Regions from separate parts of the Homo sapiens genome. Here region 2 is linked to region 1. A link means that fine-mapping ties the variant in region 1 to the expression of a gene that starts in the linked region. Tissue or cell type: whole blood. Region 1 holds a variant in brackets; the other region holds the start of a gene. All regions are shown on one strand. Distances are between the middles of the regions.

Region 1 (7,917 bases):
TATGAAGAGAAGATTTTGTTCCAAAGGAAATGATGGGGAAAAGCCCAGCTTGGGGAGGGGTCAGGGAACAGTGGGCAAGTGGGAAATGAGTCCACCTTCTGCCAGGAAGCCCAAGGGGGCATGTCTTTGAGCTGCAAAAGAACAGGTCCACAAATCATAGCTGAGATTGGCCCAGCGGTAGGAAAAGCAACACAGAATCAATTTAGTGTGGTTGAAGCTTGTGCGATGACTCGGGCTATCACGCTCCTCAGGGCCTGAATCATGGGACACAATGGATCCGCCAGCTTATTCCGGCATCCTTTAACTCTTGAGGAGCAAATGCCCTGGCAAGGAATCCGTCAGAATCTCCTTCCCCTCCTGCTGCTGCGTGCAGTGGGCCGTGCCCTGGTGAGGTTCCTGTGTCCTCTGTAGAAGGTAACAGATTAGAAAAGCAGAAGTCCCTTCTCTGTCTAGCATCCTTCCACCTTCTTCTCCTCATCTGCAAAATGGGGATGAAACACATAACCCCAGGGTTGGGAGAAAGGTCTGACACAGAGGCAAGTGTCAGTGAACGTTTGAGAACTCTGAAGCGGTGATGGAAATGGGGTATTCCTGGTAACCAGCACCCTCTCTGACCCACGTGGTAGTTATCCTTTTGCCAAAATGTGTGACTCTCTTAATACATTTTGAGTCTCTAGGGAAAAAAAAAGGCAAACTTAATTCCTACTAATATATCACTCACTGTGTTCTCTACCTTTTACGCTTTCTTTTCCAGGTGGTAACAGAAAACAATCCAGATGGGGTGCAGGTGCTGTAAAATAATACAAAGGTAAAGCTGGAGAAATACTACTTCTAAATGGAGGAATTTGTGATGAGCGTGGGGTCACTTTTAAAGACCATGCGTGTATTCAGTGCATTTATCCAGCTTGGGGCATGATCAACATTGCCAACACATTAAGAGTTTGGAATTGTTATAATATCATTTAAAAGAACATGTGCCCTAGATTTTTTTAACTTTTTTTGCTCACTTCTCAAAGCATGTTGGGAACACCATCATTTTCTGAGGCTGAATTTGGTCTGGGTTTCTGAGGATGCCTGAAATGGCATCGCTGAAAATAAATCACCCCAATCACATATGTGCTTTTAATTTTGTCCACATTGCATTTCAGAAAATTGTGAGTAACGTGAACATAAACTTCTAACTAAGAAAAAGGGTAACTGATGATCTTGCTTTCTTAACAAATATACTGTCTTTTTAATCATAGTTCTATTCTAGACCTATATATAAATAAGCTGTATTCCACTGTAATCATACTGTGATGTTTGGCTTTATTCAAAAACTATGTATTGTAAGTATCATTCCTGTGACTACAGACTTCATATTTATCATTTTAGTGACTGCATAATATTCCACTGAGAGGATATACTCCTTATGGCCCTGTTAGTGGACATTTGTTTTATTTGTTTTTTATTTTAAAATTCTATGAACCACTTTGTATTTTACTTCACCCCTTACCCCTCCTTCCTCCTTTTGGCTCTCTTCTTAAGAGTATTTCAGGCAGAACCTTGTTTATCTTTTTCAAGACTGTCTCGCTCTGTCATCCAGGCTGGAGTGCAGGGGCGTGATCTCAGCTCACTGCAGCCTCCGCCTCCCAGGTTCAAGCGATTCTCCTATCTCAGCCTCCCGAGTAGCTGGGATTACAGGTGCCTACCACCTCACCCAGCTAATTTTTGTATTTTTAGTAAAGATGGGGTTTCACCATGTCGGTCAGGCTGGTCTCGAACTCCTGACCTCAAGTGATCCACCCGCCTTGGCCACCCAAATTGCTGAGATTACAGGCGTGAGCCACCAAACATTTTTATACCAACTATATCTATTTGATTTAGACATACTTATCTAGGTTGAAAAGTAATCACAGAAATTAAATTAGCAGGAATCGTAGAAAGAAGCAGGGCCTGTGGTAAAAAGCATTAATGATGGAGCAGACCTGACTGGTTTTCATTGTCTTTCCTGAAGCTATCTCTTTGATCCAGTTCAAGTGCCCTCTCCTGGCTATGTCAATGAAGTCAACAGCTGCAAGCTAGATGAAGACGACACTGATAAATTAAAAGGCAAATGGAGCAGTGAAGTCTTGGTGCAGAAAAATGACCCTCAGAGGCAGGGCTCAAAGAAGACTGAGAGCAGCAGCAGGACAGCTGATCCATGGGAGCCCTGCTGGCCTCACCAAGGGCCGCTCCCACAGGGGGACGCTGGAGGGGAACACCATGCCTGCGGTGTCAACGGCATCGGCCCTGCTGCCACTCCACAGCCCACTGGGAATTCCAGCCCCACCCAGGATGACAGGGGCTCCTGGGCCAGTACTGCAAATACTGTTCCCCCAACTCAACCCTTCCTGGAAGGAGGGGGCACCAGGAAACAGGACTGTGTGCTGCTGGCCTCAGAAGGGACCCAAGTCATGAGAAATGGAGACTCCAGAGCTCCTTCTGAGGCAGAAAGTTTTGCCTTGGAAGTACAAGACCATGTCTTCCAGATACCAGCCCCAGATTACCTTCAGCATTGGGGCCCAGCTGGAGACAACGTTGATCATAATGAAAAGGACTGTGTTTTCAAGAACCATACTGAGGATGAATCCCTAGAGGGAATTCAGCCCCCAGTGGGGGAGCATGGTTTGAATACGCCCTTCTCTGTGAGGAGAAGCTGGGATTCATTGAATGAGGATGTGGAAACAGAAGTTCTAAGCATCTGCTTTAATGAGAAGGGTCCTGTTCATGCCATGCCTGTGGTTGACTCAGGAAACAGGCAGGAGGATACCCATGGCTCCGATGGAGATGGGGATGGGGAGATTGTGGACGAGGATGCAGCGGTGGCGGAGGCCCTTGCAGCTTTAGAAGCTGCTACTGCAGGAGAAGATTTGGATGAGACTGATTAGGGGAGGGGATTTGCACAGGGAGGTAAGCTGGTGTCATGCTGAGCATGCAGATGCATTTGCTCCCTGGATGCATAGCAGGTGATTCTGCCAGCATGCACCAGTGCAGCCTTACCAGTTGTTTACATCCAGCATCTGTTCTGATTGTCAGCATCTGTCCCATGCTGCTTGTCACATATCTGGAGTTTCACTCTGTGTAGATGAGCTGTCATTCAGGACACTAGGAGAAAAATCTGAGTGGGTCATTGTGCCCATATCCACAGAAAATGCAGAAGTTGAACAGCTTGCTTGACAACCCTCAAACATCTTTGAGCACCTGGTACAGATGTTTATGAGAATACTCTAAGATCTCAACCCTTGATCCCAAAGGCACACAATCACAGAGCATTCCTTTTGACTGTAAACTGTTTACCTTGCTTTTGAGAGCCAAACATTGTACCCAACCTGGAAAAAGTAACTACCCCAATTAAAGTGCCTCATGTGTCCCCAGAGCATGGCTTAACTTCAGGGACAATCACCCAGGGAACTAATAACTAACCAGTTGTTCAACAGC[G/A]GGTTAAGCTCAGCAGTTTTCACAGTAGAGCAGAAGTCCCCAGGAAACAAAGGGTTAGTCATTAGCTGAGATGTTGATTTTAAAACACCTTGACCTTAACTTTTTTACATTATTACTTTTAAATCTCCTTTGGGATTGGGGAGGCTGGCCAAAATAAGTCTTAAAACTGCTTATGTCATATTTGGATTTTAAGTTCATGACATTCGGAACAGCAAAGCCATATATGCAATGTTTTTATGCCATTAAATGTCTGATTCCAATTAAAATATAACAACGTATGTGTCTTTCTAGAAGTCTTAACTCAAAGGTGGTTCTAATTTTCTCAGAATATCAGTGACCCTGGATGTTACTTTCAATGTAAAGAACTAATCTAGATGGCCGGGCGTGGTGGCTCATGCCTGTAATCCCAGCACTTTGGGAGGCCGAGGCGGGTGGATCACAAGGTCAGGAGTTCAAGATCAGCCTGGCCAACATAGTGAAACCCTGTCTCTACTAAAAATACAAAAAATTATCCGGGCACGGTGGCGGGCGCCTGTAATCCCAGCTACTTGGGAGGCTGAGGCAAGGAGAATCACTTGAACCTGGGAGGTGGAGGTTGCAGTGAGCTGAGATCGTGCCACTGCACTCCAGCCTGGGTGACAGTGCAAGACTCCATCTCAAAAAAAAAAAAAAAAAAAAGAGCTAAGCTAGGCACAGTGGCTCATGTCTGTAATCTGAGCACTTTGGAAGGCTGAGGTGAGAGGATTGCCAGGGCCAGGAATTCGAGACCAACCTGGGCAATTTAGCGAGACCCCATCTCTATGAAAAAAAAAAAAAAAAAAAGAGCTAGACTACAAAATTATACTCAAGGAAGGGACCGAGCTGGTTTGCAGAGCCATAGCTTTGGCTTTCTCTCTGTCAAACTTGATGCCATAACTAAATGTCCTGATCTTACCTCAAAGATGAACAAGCCCTCTCTGGATTTCAGCCTTCTAATTCACTGAAACAAGGACAACCATTCTAACGTAACTCAATGGAGAATTTAAAGGCATTAAGGATGCTCAAAACTATCTAGAAAAAAATAAACATGGAAGATGCTTTAGTTTGGTGTTTTGTAACACAGAATTGAAATCTGACTGAACTTCATTTGATTTCCAGCTTTGCCATGTGACCTTGGACAAGTTATGTATCCCTTTACCCATCTGTAAAGTGAGAAGAATAATTGTATGTGCTTGTAAAGGTTAAATGAGATGATGTAAGTGTTTAGCACAGTGCTTGGCACACTAGGCACTCAAAAATGATGTTTTACTAGTTGAAAACAATTCCTTTAACAAACATTTTTACATCCCCACAACTGAAAACTCTAAAACTGGGAAGTATGTATAATGTCATTATTTGACTTTGGCAATTATTTAGTATAAAACATGATTTCTGAGCCTTCCAGCACCTTTAAGGACGGCACCCTTACAAATGCTTAATGAGCCTATGGGTTTGTTTGGTACTGTAATGACAAGCCATCGCAAGTGACCTCTATATACAGGGTCACTCAGAGCCCTTAAAAAGATAAAGTCTTGGCATTGTTAATTGCATTAGAGGTATGTCTCCTTTTGTATTTAGTACACCAAATACTTAATATTTCAGAATGCTTATTCCTTCAATGATTTCCTAAGTGTATCAGTTGAGATTATGTTCAGTTGTATGGGACGAGTGTTTTATACAAATAGAGGCTTATTTACCTCTTATGTAAAAGAAGTCTGGAGTTAGTGATCCAGGGTGGTAGAGAATGTATCACTGGCCCGTGTATCAATGACCCACATATCAATGACCCACGTATCAATGACCCGCATATGAATGACCCATGCTGCTTCAATCATTTTGGTTTCCTTCTCAAGATCACTTTGTAGTCCATAATGGCTGCTGTGGCTTCAGTCATTACATTTGCATTCCATGTTGGAAAAAGAATAAAGGAATAAAAACCCCACTCACTCTCTATTAAGGACCCCACAGAAGTATAATTCATCCCTTCCACATTACTCTCTTTGGTCAAAATCTGGTCACTTGGCCACATCTAGCTGCAAGAGAGACTAGGAAATCGTCTTGCTAGTGGTGTGCGTGGCTTTGCCAAATAAACTCAGAATGCAGTTACTAAGAAGGGGAAATGGACAATGAGTTTCGAGGCGGTCAGTTTACAGTCTCTGCCACAGGAGGTCTCAAAACCCAAAAGCCTGGGATACAGCTGGTTTCAAAAGATTGGAAGATCGTGTGTACATTCAGTGTGACACCAAAGGGGCTTCCACCTTTGGTCCGGGGGAAGGAGGACTGGACAGCTACCGCTGCTCCAACTTCCCATTGATAACTCCAAACCGGACGAAAAGAAGAAATTCAGACAAAGAAGGGGTAGGGTAAGGTATCAGGGCAGACAAGTCTCTTTCTCTTACCCAGACACACACTTTCGCATTTATATATGTATATAATTTTACATCTTAGAACAGCTGCAGAGTTCACCATAACTGACAGCTCTGTAGTTTTAAAGATTCTCTTTTATGAATAACTGCTTTGAAAAGGTCGACAGATGGCCAATACTTTCAAGAGTTCTTTAAAAGTAATTCTGGCCCCTTTCATCTTTACTCCAGTATCCAGGATCCCCCAAAGGAAATGAAAGTAAAAAATCTTTAGGTTGAAAAGTAATTCCAGCTTTTAGCCTTATCTACCAGGTTGTCTAACAGTGAGCTGTCTGAGCACGCTTATGTGTGTAGTGTCTTCTTTCTGCAGCCTAGTGCCACCTCTTGTCAGAAAAGTGATGTTGAAAATAGCCAACCTTTTCAAACATTGTGGACAATATGAAAGCACAATGCACTCTGATTGGAAGGCACTAACTGTGATTAGGGGCAGACTTCACAGTTCCCCATGAACCTTAGGCAATTGCATCACGTGGATATTTACCATGTTAAATCCTGATTTTGAATTAAGATTATTTTATGTATATATTACATATAGGTTTCTTGAGCTAAGAAGTTAGATTTAACTTTTTACTGGGGGAAAATGAACTATCATATAAATATGAAATTAAATTTTTTCCCCTCATTGCCAAAGCAGATGTAGTGAATAGTTATAACTGGAAAAACCAGATACCCAAAAAAACGAAGAGAATTTTAGGTTTCTTACATAGCACATGCCCATCTGTCCATGCTCAGTAAGTGCTGGCCATTCGTCATTTTCCTCCCTCTGCCCCGCTCTGTCTCTCTGATTCTCTTCTCTTCCTACCTCTCCCATCCGTACCTCCAAGCAGGAGGCCTTAGAAAGAATGAATGAGACACCAGATGCAAGTGCAAGTGCAAAGATCTCCTGACTTCCCTGGTTTGGTCGTCTGTGTGCAACCATGCAGCAGATAGAGCACAGTCACTACTGCAGCACAGGATATAGCCTCCTTTCCTGGACTTGGACTTAACTCTTCATCAAGGGCACTGCTTTTCACACAACCAGGCTTTATGACGAAAACGTAGAAATTAATTGCTTTCTGGTCTTGTTTCATTTTTTTTCTCTAGATTAAACCTCATGCATTTTTAAATCCTCTATTTTGGAGTTGGTGACAAACACAGACAAGCTGACATCTGTTTTTCATGGTAAATCCTTTCCCTGTTAACTAATAGAACAATAAGTCATTCATTTATAGATTTACTAAATTTGTAAGTTTCTCATATGTATCAGGTTATACAAACCACACCTAAGTGGTCTGCTAACTTCTGAAGCACTCCCAGCCACTTTAAGAAACATTTTATGCAAGTCAATGTGTTGATCGTAGATGATGCTTACCTGCACATTTAGTCACTTGGAGTCAACTATTAGCAATTTTTTTCAACTGAAATATCTGTACTAAAAAAATGCGTTTGGCCTGAGATCTAAGTTAGTGTACGGCACAAGGGGGGAACTCAATACATATTTGTTGATTGAAAGAATACATAAAAGAAGTCTGGAGTTAGTGATCTTTTCCCGGTCTGGTTGGGGAGATATCATGCAGGTAGCCAGGATTGTGCTGGATTGTGACATGGTGTAATAAAGGTATACATGGTGTAATAAAGGATGTGGGAGCACAAATCCATAGGAATTTGAGAGTTTAGGAATTGTATTTATTATTCAGGCCCTTCACTCTCAGACTACCCTGCTCTATTTGAATAATGAGGCTTGTGGTGGTCTGTGGAAAAGTGGACAGAGTAGAATTTGGGCAGCTGCTGAAGGTTTGGTCTCTAGAATGAGTCCACGTTACCCTAAGGACGGTAATCCCAAATTGAGACAAAAACTTTAAGAAAACCAATGTTTGGGGCCAAGCAATGGGGAGCTTGGCCGACCTCGTTTTTTAGTGATTTTGAACTCAATCTTTAAAATCCTGGAAGAGAAGGAAAAAAAGGGTGTATATTCGTGTAATGACATCCAGATCTCACCGTTCTCTTGGCTCCTAGTGATGGGGGAAAAAAGGTGCGC
Region 2 (7,917 bases), 94 kb after region 1:
GCCTTGGCCTCCCAAAGTGCTGCGATTACAGGCGTGAGCCACTGCACCCGGCTTCCTTCTGATTTTTGACTTCAAGTCCAAGGCCCTGACTTAAGGCTTGGTGCTCTTTCCACCATAGCATCCCATGACCTTGTTACTTACTGATTCTTTACAAATATGTTAGAATAAAAAGAATTTTCTTACTCAAAAAAATAGTTTAGTAATAATAAGCATGGACTTCAAAATCAAACAGATCTGACTCAATGGACTCCATGACAAAATCCAGCTTACACATGAGTGACTTTTTCAACTTCTCTGAGGCTCAATTTCCTCATCTACAAACACAGGAATAAAATTATGTATATAACTGACAGGAAATTAATTGTAAGAATGAAATGATCTAGGTATTTAGACTACCGCCTGCACACAAACCAGGTAATAATAAAAATTGAATTCCTTTTTCCTAAAAGAGTAAAGTGTCTACAGTGTACTAACACCAAATTCTGATTTTAGTTTTTATAAATCACACCAGAATTATTAATATACCCGCTTTCAGCAGCACACCAAATCTTTACAACCACTTAAGTGTCCGAAATTATTAGGAACCACTCAACCTAATAGTTTATACCAATGACAATTTAATTTATTCTTTTTGTCAGCTTTAAATCATTTCTCTATTGTTTCAATAAGTCATTAAACTTCAACATTAGGGCCAAAGAATCATTTTTAAAGAAACAATAAAATCTGTTGTTTGTTCACTTGGGGCTTTGGTCTCTCACATTCAAATTCAACTCTTCAAATTTCCAAATAGATTCATTTCATTTCCATTTTTAGAGGGGGTAGGGGCAGGGAATTGACAGAGACTTCTCACATTTTTCATTTCCTTTTAAAATTAAATGTAGATATGGACTCCCAAGCTCCAAGGTGTGCTTTTTCAAAACTTTCCAAACACTATATATTATGTGGATGTACAGCTTCGCAGCTACCTGGCTAAGAGAGACCCCAGAATTTAATAAAGCTTATCTTTAGTTTCTAAAAAGGAGTCAGAATGCTGGAGGGAAGCCTGCAGCCCAAGGACAATGCATTTTTCATCTCACCAGCCCCAGGACCTCTTCCACCCACTCCTTACTCGAGGGCTATGCCCACTGTCTGAGAGAGAAACTAATAAACCTGAAGGTTGAGTAACCAGAGAACTTAAGGACATTAATAAGCCAAGACGTGGAAAATCATCCCTTTGGGTGCTTGTGGTATATAGTTTCGAATGCTGCTGCTAAGAGACAAGTTTAATGAGATTCTTCTACTAGGAAGGAAGTGAAAAAGGCATTGCCACTACCCACCGTGAAGCTATCTGCCCTTCTTTTCTCTACTTGACAACTTCTGATAACCACATGCTTACAATTTTATGACGTTCTAAACTATCTTAGAATCTCAGCGAGATTGCAGAGGTTGACTCATATTCTATTTTTCCTCTGCAGAGCAGTGGGGTACAGTGGAAAGGGAATGAACTTTGGAATCAAGCAGGCTGGGTTATCCCAGATAAAGATACATATAAAGGTACACACATACACAGACACCTCCTAGTGGTTCTGCTTCTCTGAATGCTGACTGGCACAGTACCTATGTGATGTTCAGCCAGTTGTTTAACCTCTCTTGCCTCAGTTGCCTTACTGGAAGTAAGTATTTCACAGGGTTATGAGCAATGAGTTTAAAAATGCCTATGAAGGCTGGGCGCGGTGGCTCACACCTGTAATCCCTGCACTTTGGGAGGTCGAGAAGGGCGGATCACTTGAGGTCAGGAGTTACAAACCAGCATAGCCAACATGGGGAAGCCCCGATTCTACTAAAAAATACAAAAATTTGCCAGGCATGGTGGCGGGCGCCTATAATCCCAGCTACTAGGGAGGCTGAGGCAGGAGAATTGCTTGAGCCTGGGAGGTGGAGGTTGTAGTGAGCTGAGATCGCACCACTGCACCTCAGCCTGGGAGTCAGAGCAAGACTCTGTCTCAAAAAACAATAAAAATAAAAATAAATAAACAAATAAAAATGCGGCCGGGCGCGGTGGCTCACGCCTGTAATCCCAGCACTTTGGGAGGCCAAGGTGGGCGGATCACGAGGTCAGGAGATGGAGACCATCCTGGCTAACACGGTGAAACCCCGTCTCTACTAAAAATATAAAAAATTAGCCAGGCATGGTGGCGGGCGCCTGTAGTCCCAGCTACTCTGGAGGCTGAGGCAGGAGAATGGCGTGAACCCGGGAGGCGGAGCTTGCAGTGAGATCGCGCCACTGCACTCCAGCCTGGGCGACAGAGCAAGACTCCGTCTCAAAAAGAAAAAAATAAATAAAAATAAAAATGCATACAAAGTACTCAACCCAAAGCCTGGCACACAGCAGGCACTCAACAGTATTTCCCATTCCTTTCCCTCTACTTCCCTATGCTCAAGGTACAAACATTAACACCATCTTTGGTTGCAAGGGGATCAGATGTTGGCTGGTCAGAGCATCTTCTCTTTACACACGCCTCAAGATACTGGCAAATTTGTGCTCTGTATCCTTTCCTTTTTAGACACCTGTTTCTTCTTCCGCATTAATTTTCATCAAAAAAAAAAAAAGGCTGTCATGCAATTAGATGAGAGCTTTCATCAGTCACATTCTAGTCCTGAGACCTGGGTGTTGCTCAGAGGTCAAACCAAACACACACCCACTCTAGGGATGGATTTCTCCTGCTGATGATGGCTAATTACATGCATCATGTGCTGAATTTTTAATAATTTTACTCCCAGATTAAACTCTTCCCCAGATTCTGTTGCAACTGACTCTAACCCTCTAATGAATGTCTCCAACCTCACATCCAAGTGGAACCTGATTATGCACCTATGTGTCCCAGCAATCAAACGCAGGATGAAAATCAAAATGAACCAGCAGGGCATGGTGGCTCATGCCTGTAATACCAGCACTTTGGGAGGCCGAGGCAGGAGGATCACTTGAGGTCGGGAGTTCGAGACCAGCCTGGCCAATATGGCAAAACCCCATCTCTACTAAAAATACAAAAATTAGCCGGGCATGGTGGCACATGCCTGTAATCCCAGCTGCTCAGAAGGCTGAGGCAGGAGAATCACTTGAACCAGAGAGCTGGAGGTTGCAGTGAGCCGAGGTTGTGCCACTGCACTCCAGTCTGGGTGACAAAATGAGCCCCTGTATCAAAATAAGGAAAAGAAAAAAAAAATTGTCCCATCCAGTAAAACATGTCACTAGCTGCCATTTCCCCAGGTGGATGGCTAACGGAAATACGGGCCTGCTAAAAAGACTCAGGAGACAATATTATCCATCTCCTTCCCTTCCAACCTGCTCTGGTTTCTATGAAAAAGTGAAGGCCAAACTGCTAAGTCAGTGTAAAAGTTGTAAGCGACTGAAATGTTCTCAGGAGGAAGAGTTTATGGATGTTTATGGAGGAGACAGTCACTGTTGAAAGGCTTCCAGTTGCTTATTATTTGGGCCTGAGGAGGAACCACCGCTGAAATCAAGCTTGGAAGAGCTTGCTGACGTCAGATTCCCAGCTGTAGTAACCCCAAATGGCCAAGTAAGTATGTTTTTTTTTTAACTGCAGCTGTTAGGTGGCAATTAAGAGGGGAAGCGGTGGTAAGGAATCCCTAGTGTCTGTAATTATAAAAGCAAGGATGTGACATAGGACTTCCATAAAACTTACACCTCCTCTTAAGATTGATTTCAATTAAAAACTGCTTCATCGTTGGTGACACTTTAGCATCTCTGTTGGTGGCTTCCTGCCCTGACCACACAAGGTTCCTTTCGTGACGACAGGAATCAACAAAAAGAAGAAAAAAATGTAAGTTTACCAACGCGCCTTCCCTTTTTCCGAGCCTGATTTATACAGGATATATGGGAAGAAATGTGGACTCCTTGACCTGTTACAAGAATCCATCAACCACCCAAATAAATGGAAACGTGGAAAGAGATTCAAAGTCCTCCAGGTTTTAGGATATTTTAAGGTATTTAAAAGGGAGAAGGAGGCGCCGACAGCGCACCCGGTGCTCTGTGTCACGATCTTCCGCTCGCGGCGCCTTTGAGGACAAGGGCGGCGGGAAACGGGTCCGCGGGGTTCCGAGGCGAGCGGCCGTGGAGGAAGCGCCCCCGAAGAAGGCCTGGTCCCTACGCCCCGCACTGCCCAGCGCTGGGGAACACAGATCCTCGGAGGAGGCCCCAGGGAGGGAAGGCGGGAGCGGGGCCCGCGGGAGGGGAGGGACGGGAGCCGTTGCCACGCACCGCGCCCTGCCCGGACCGCCGCGGGACAGCCAGTTGTTCAGTGCCGGGATCCCGCGGCTGTGCCAGAAAGCAGGACGCCGCGGGGCTGCCGTCCCGACCCCTCGCTTCCTTCCGCGCTCCCGGGACCGGGCTCAGCACCCGGCGCCCCGGCTACGACCGGACACTCACCCGGAGCCACCAGCGGCGAACTCACGGCGCCTCCCACGAAGACAGCAGCGGCTAGGACGGCGGACCCCGGGAGTGCCCGCGGAGCCATCGCCGCGTCGCTTCGCCCTCCTCCCCCAGGGCGCCGCGTCCCGCGCTCGGGAAGGCAGAGCCGCTCCGGAGCCGGCGGGCTGATCGAGTGGCTGGGCTGGGCCCCAGGGAGCGGCGAACCCCGCCCCGCCATTGCCCCGCCCCACGCCACACCCACCTCGGCTCGGTCCCGCCTCTCCCCGCGCGCCCCGGGCTCCACCTAAGCCGGCACGAGGTCCACTCATGGCTCCGCCCCCGACTCCCCGCCCACCTCAGCCTGATCCCGCCTCTCCCTGCCATTCCCGCTTCCTTTCCAAACCCCGCAGCAGCCTCAGCGGCGTAGCTAGGCCATGGACACGCCCTCTTTCTCCACCCACCTCAGCTTGGCCCCGCCTCTCCCTACCGAGCCCCGGACTCCACCTAAGAAGGCACGTGGCCCATCCATGGCCCCGCCCTTTTCCCCACCCACAGCTCAGCCCGACCCCTCCTCTCCCGCTTCCTTTCCAAACCCAGCAGCAGCCTTGGCGGCGCAGTTAGGCTATAGCCCCGCCCTTGCGCCCTGCCCACCGTGGCCCGGCCGTGCCTCTACTTGCCAGGCCCGCTTCCTTTCCAAGCCGGGCCGGGATTACGCGGGAGCCCGGGGCGGGGGGAGGGTCGCCCGGGTGCAACCTCCCTCGGTCGCTGGGACTAGGCGGGCGTGGGAAGAGAAAGAGGGAGCGCGCCCCGAGAAGCACTGGACAGTCAGAAGCGGCCAGCACTGGAGTGAGCACAGGCTTTTTTCGCTGTTGGCATGTCTATCCACTAGCATTCCCCTCGGTTGCAGATCTAGGGAGTGATGCTGTGCTGGATGTCACGTTCTGTTGTTTGGAAATTAGCAGAAAAGATAACTTAAATTTCTTCCTCTGTTTGTTTGCATTTAAGCTGCTCCTATTGGGGAAAATACCTCTATGCATTTTCAGGAACAACTTGCCTTTTTTTTTTAATCGTGTGCTTGTATTGCACCTTGCGCATACTCCCGCAAAGTAGGTCTTTCAATGCCCAGACGCTTATTATCTCCTCACATCCTCACATCAGCTCTGCGAGGTGACTATTAGAGGCCAGGGAGTAAACCCACGATGTCTGGGCCACCATGATAAATTGTAATTATCTCATTGTCATTGTGTTTGCTCGCTGCTGTGCCCTCAGCGCCTGGATGGAGGACAGACAGCACACGCTAAGAGGTCAGAAGTGTTTTCTGAAGTTGAATCATCTTCACAAGCATTAATAGGACTCAGAGGCTCTCTCTGAATAGTTCCTTTTTACTGCCCTGTAGAGACTGTTGTTACTGGGCCATCAAGCATTTGCTTGAAGGAAATTAGGGCAGGACTTGAGCAAATACTCAACACCAGCAAGAAGAGGGGGTGCATGGAGGCTGTGGGTTTTCACAGGATGGGTCTCATCCTTGAGGTGACTGATAACCTCTAGTTTTCAGAGGACTATTTATTCTCTCACCGAGTCCTCCACGCAGTCTGCTGGACTATTATTACAAACATTGCATTGATGTGGGAATTGCCAGTGACAGAAGCTCAGGCCACTACAGTACAGATGGCTGAGGCTGAAGGATGGAGCCCCTGCCCTTTGAAGCCCAAGGAGGGCACTGCGCGTCCTGCGCTCAGTTGGCAGCGCATCCTACAGTCTGGCAGTCTTAGCAGGCAGCCTTTGCTAGTTTTATATCAACATAAACATTGAGAATGTGTGCGGAGGAAAGCGATCCATGTGGATTTCTAACTAAAACAGGAGAGAATCCCGGACCTAGAAATTAAACTATAAATTAGAAGTTGTAGCCAGAACCAGCTATAAAATTTGCAGGGCACAATGCAAAATGAAAAGGCAGGGCCTTCTGTTCAAAAATCGTTAAGAATTTCAAGATGGCAACAACACAACATTAAATCGATTGTGGAGCCCTCCTAAACACACAGTTGCACAGGTCACACACTTATAAAGCCAGCTCTGGTTTTGTAAGTTAGAATGTAACAAAATGCTTGAATCAAGAAATCTAATCAAAATGTAAAATGTCATTTCAAAATTGAATCATGTTTCACTCTTTTCCCACAGATTGGACTTAGTATTAAAAAGATGGGATCGTTTTTGGCTGGGCGCAGTAGCTCAAGCCTGTAATCCCAGCACTTTGGGAGGCCGAAGCAGGCAGATCACGAGGTCAGGAGATCGTAGACCATCCTGGCTAACACGGTGAAACCCCATCTGTACTAAAAATACAAAAAAGTAGCCAGGCGTGGTGGCGGGCGCCTGTAGTCCCAGCTACTCGGGAGGCTGAGGCAGGAGAATGGCGTGAACCCGGGAGGCGGAACTTGCAGTGAGCCGAGATTGTGCCACTGCACTGCAGCCTGGGCAACAGAGCGAGACTCCGTCTCAAAAGAAAAAAAGAAAAAAAAAAAAGAAAGACGGGATCATTTTTAACAACACATTTGAATTGTATATCTGTTATGGCTCTTCAAATATAAAAATCTAGTACTTAAGCCTTACCCATTATCTACCAGGCCCTTTGTTTTACAGATGAGAGATGGTTAAGTGATCTGCCTGACATATCTACTATGAGCCAGGGTTGAAACCCAGGGCTCTGAAATTTCTCTTCCTAAACTTTCCATAACACCTGCTTGACACACTCTCTATAAATGTCTTACTTTCACGTACCCCGTATACATGCATTTGTATGTCTTGTTAAAGGAATGAAGGAAGGGTAGGAGGAAGAGAGGGGGAGGGACGGAGGAAAGTGAAGAAGGGAAGGAGAGAGGAAAGAAAGAAAATCAAGCTTAAATTATTTTCCATATCCTTAACCCTACAGATTTATTCATACAATTTAAATAGCTTCTACATATGTATATCTAAAAATCCACTGTTTTATTTTAAAAGTAAGAACCCCAATGTAATGGAACTTCTATTCTCTATTATGAAGGGAATGTCATATTTCTTCTGAGGACATAAAATGGAAATCTTAAAACTAAGTTGTATTTCCATTTTTTCAGAAACAAAAGTAGAGTTTTAATAATTCTTAAGAATAACTGTCATTAATTAAAAACAATAATCCTCATTCTGCCCTTAGATTTAGCCCAATCCTATGGTGGGAACTCTTTTTGTATTCTTTCATCAATTCCTCACAATGATTTTATATTTAGGGAATCATTGTTAACACTCCTCACTTCAAAGCTGAGGGATTAGGGCATTTACCTGAGTCACATGGCCTCTCCCTGGCACCACCAGGATGCAAATCCAGGATCAGCTCCCTTGGGCCCACACTTGCAACCTCCTCTTGCACTATTCTGCCTCTGAAATGCAGAACTCCAGCCAACTAGCTCCTCTTTTGCAATCTAAAGTATTGTTCTCATATTCCTTCATTGCATGTTTAACCTAGCCTTTTTGAACTCTGT

What was found. PIP is the estimated chance that this variant, and not a neighbour inherited with it, causes the effect.
Region 2: it holds the start of RELL1, and the variant in region 1 is fine-mapped to the expression of RELL1 in whole blood (TOPMed, PIP above 0.99).

The regions. Positions count from the first base shown.
Region 1 is chr4:37,588,092-37,596,008 of GRCh38, forward strand. PGCKA1 (PDCD10 and GCKIII kinases associated 1) reads left to right here. Exons shown (of 4, transcript NM_001104629.2): 3 at 755-808; 4 at 1,997-5,419. The coding sequence starts at 777. The coding sequence ends at 2,909. It also overlaps a transcript of RELL1 not described here. Among named protein-coding and RNA genes, the nearest start is that of RELL1, 94 kb to the right of the region's middle. RefSeq lists enhancers at 1,745-2,245, 2,246-2,746. The variant G/A (reference allele first, on the strand shown) is at 3,460.
Region 2 is chr4:37,681,774-37,689,690 of GRCh38, forward strand. It overlaps RELL1 (RELT like 1), which reads right to left and starts at 4,603. Exons shown (of 7, transcript NM_001085400.2): 1 at 4,427-4,603. The coding sequence starts at 4,514. RefSeq lists an enhancer at 1,001-1,050 and silencers at 4,142-4,811, 4,992-5,301.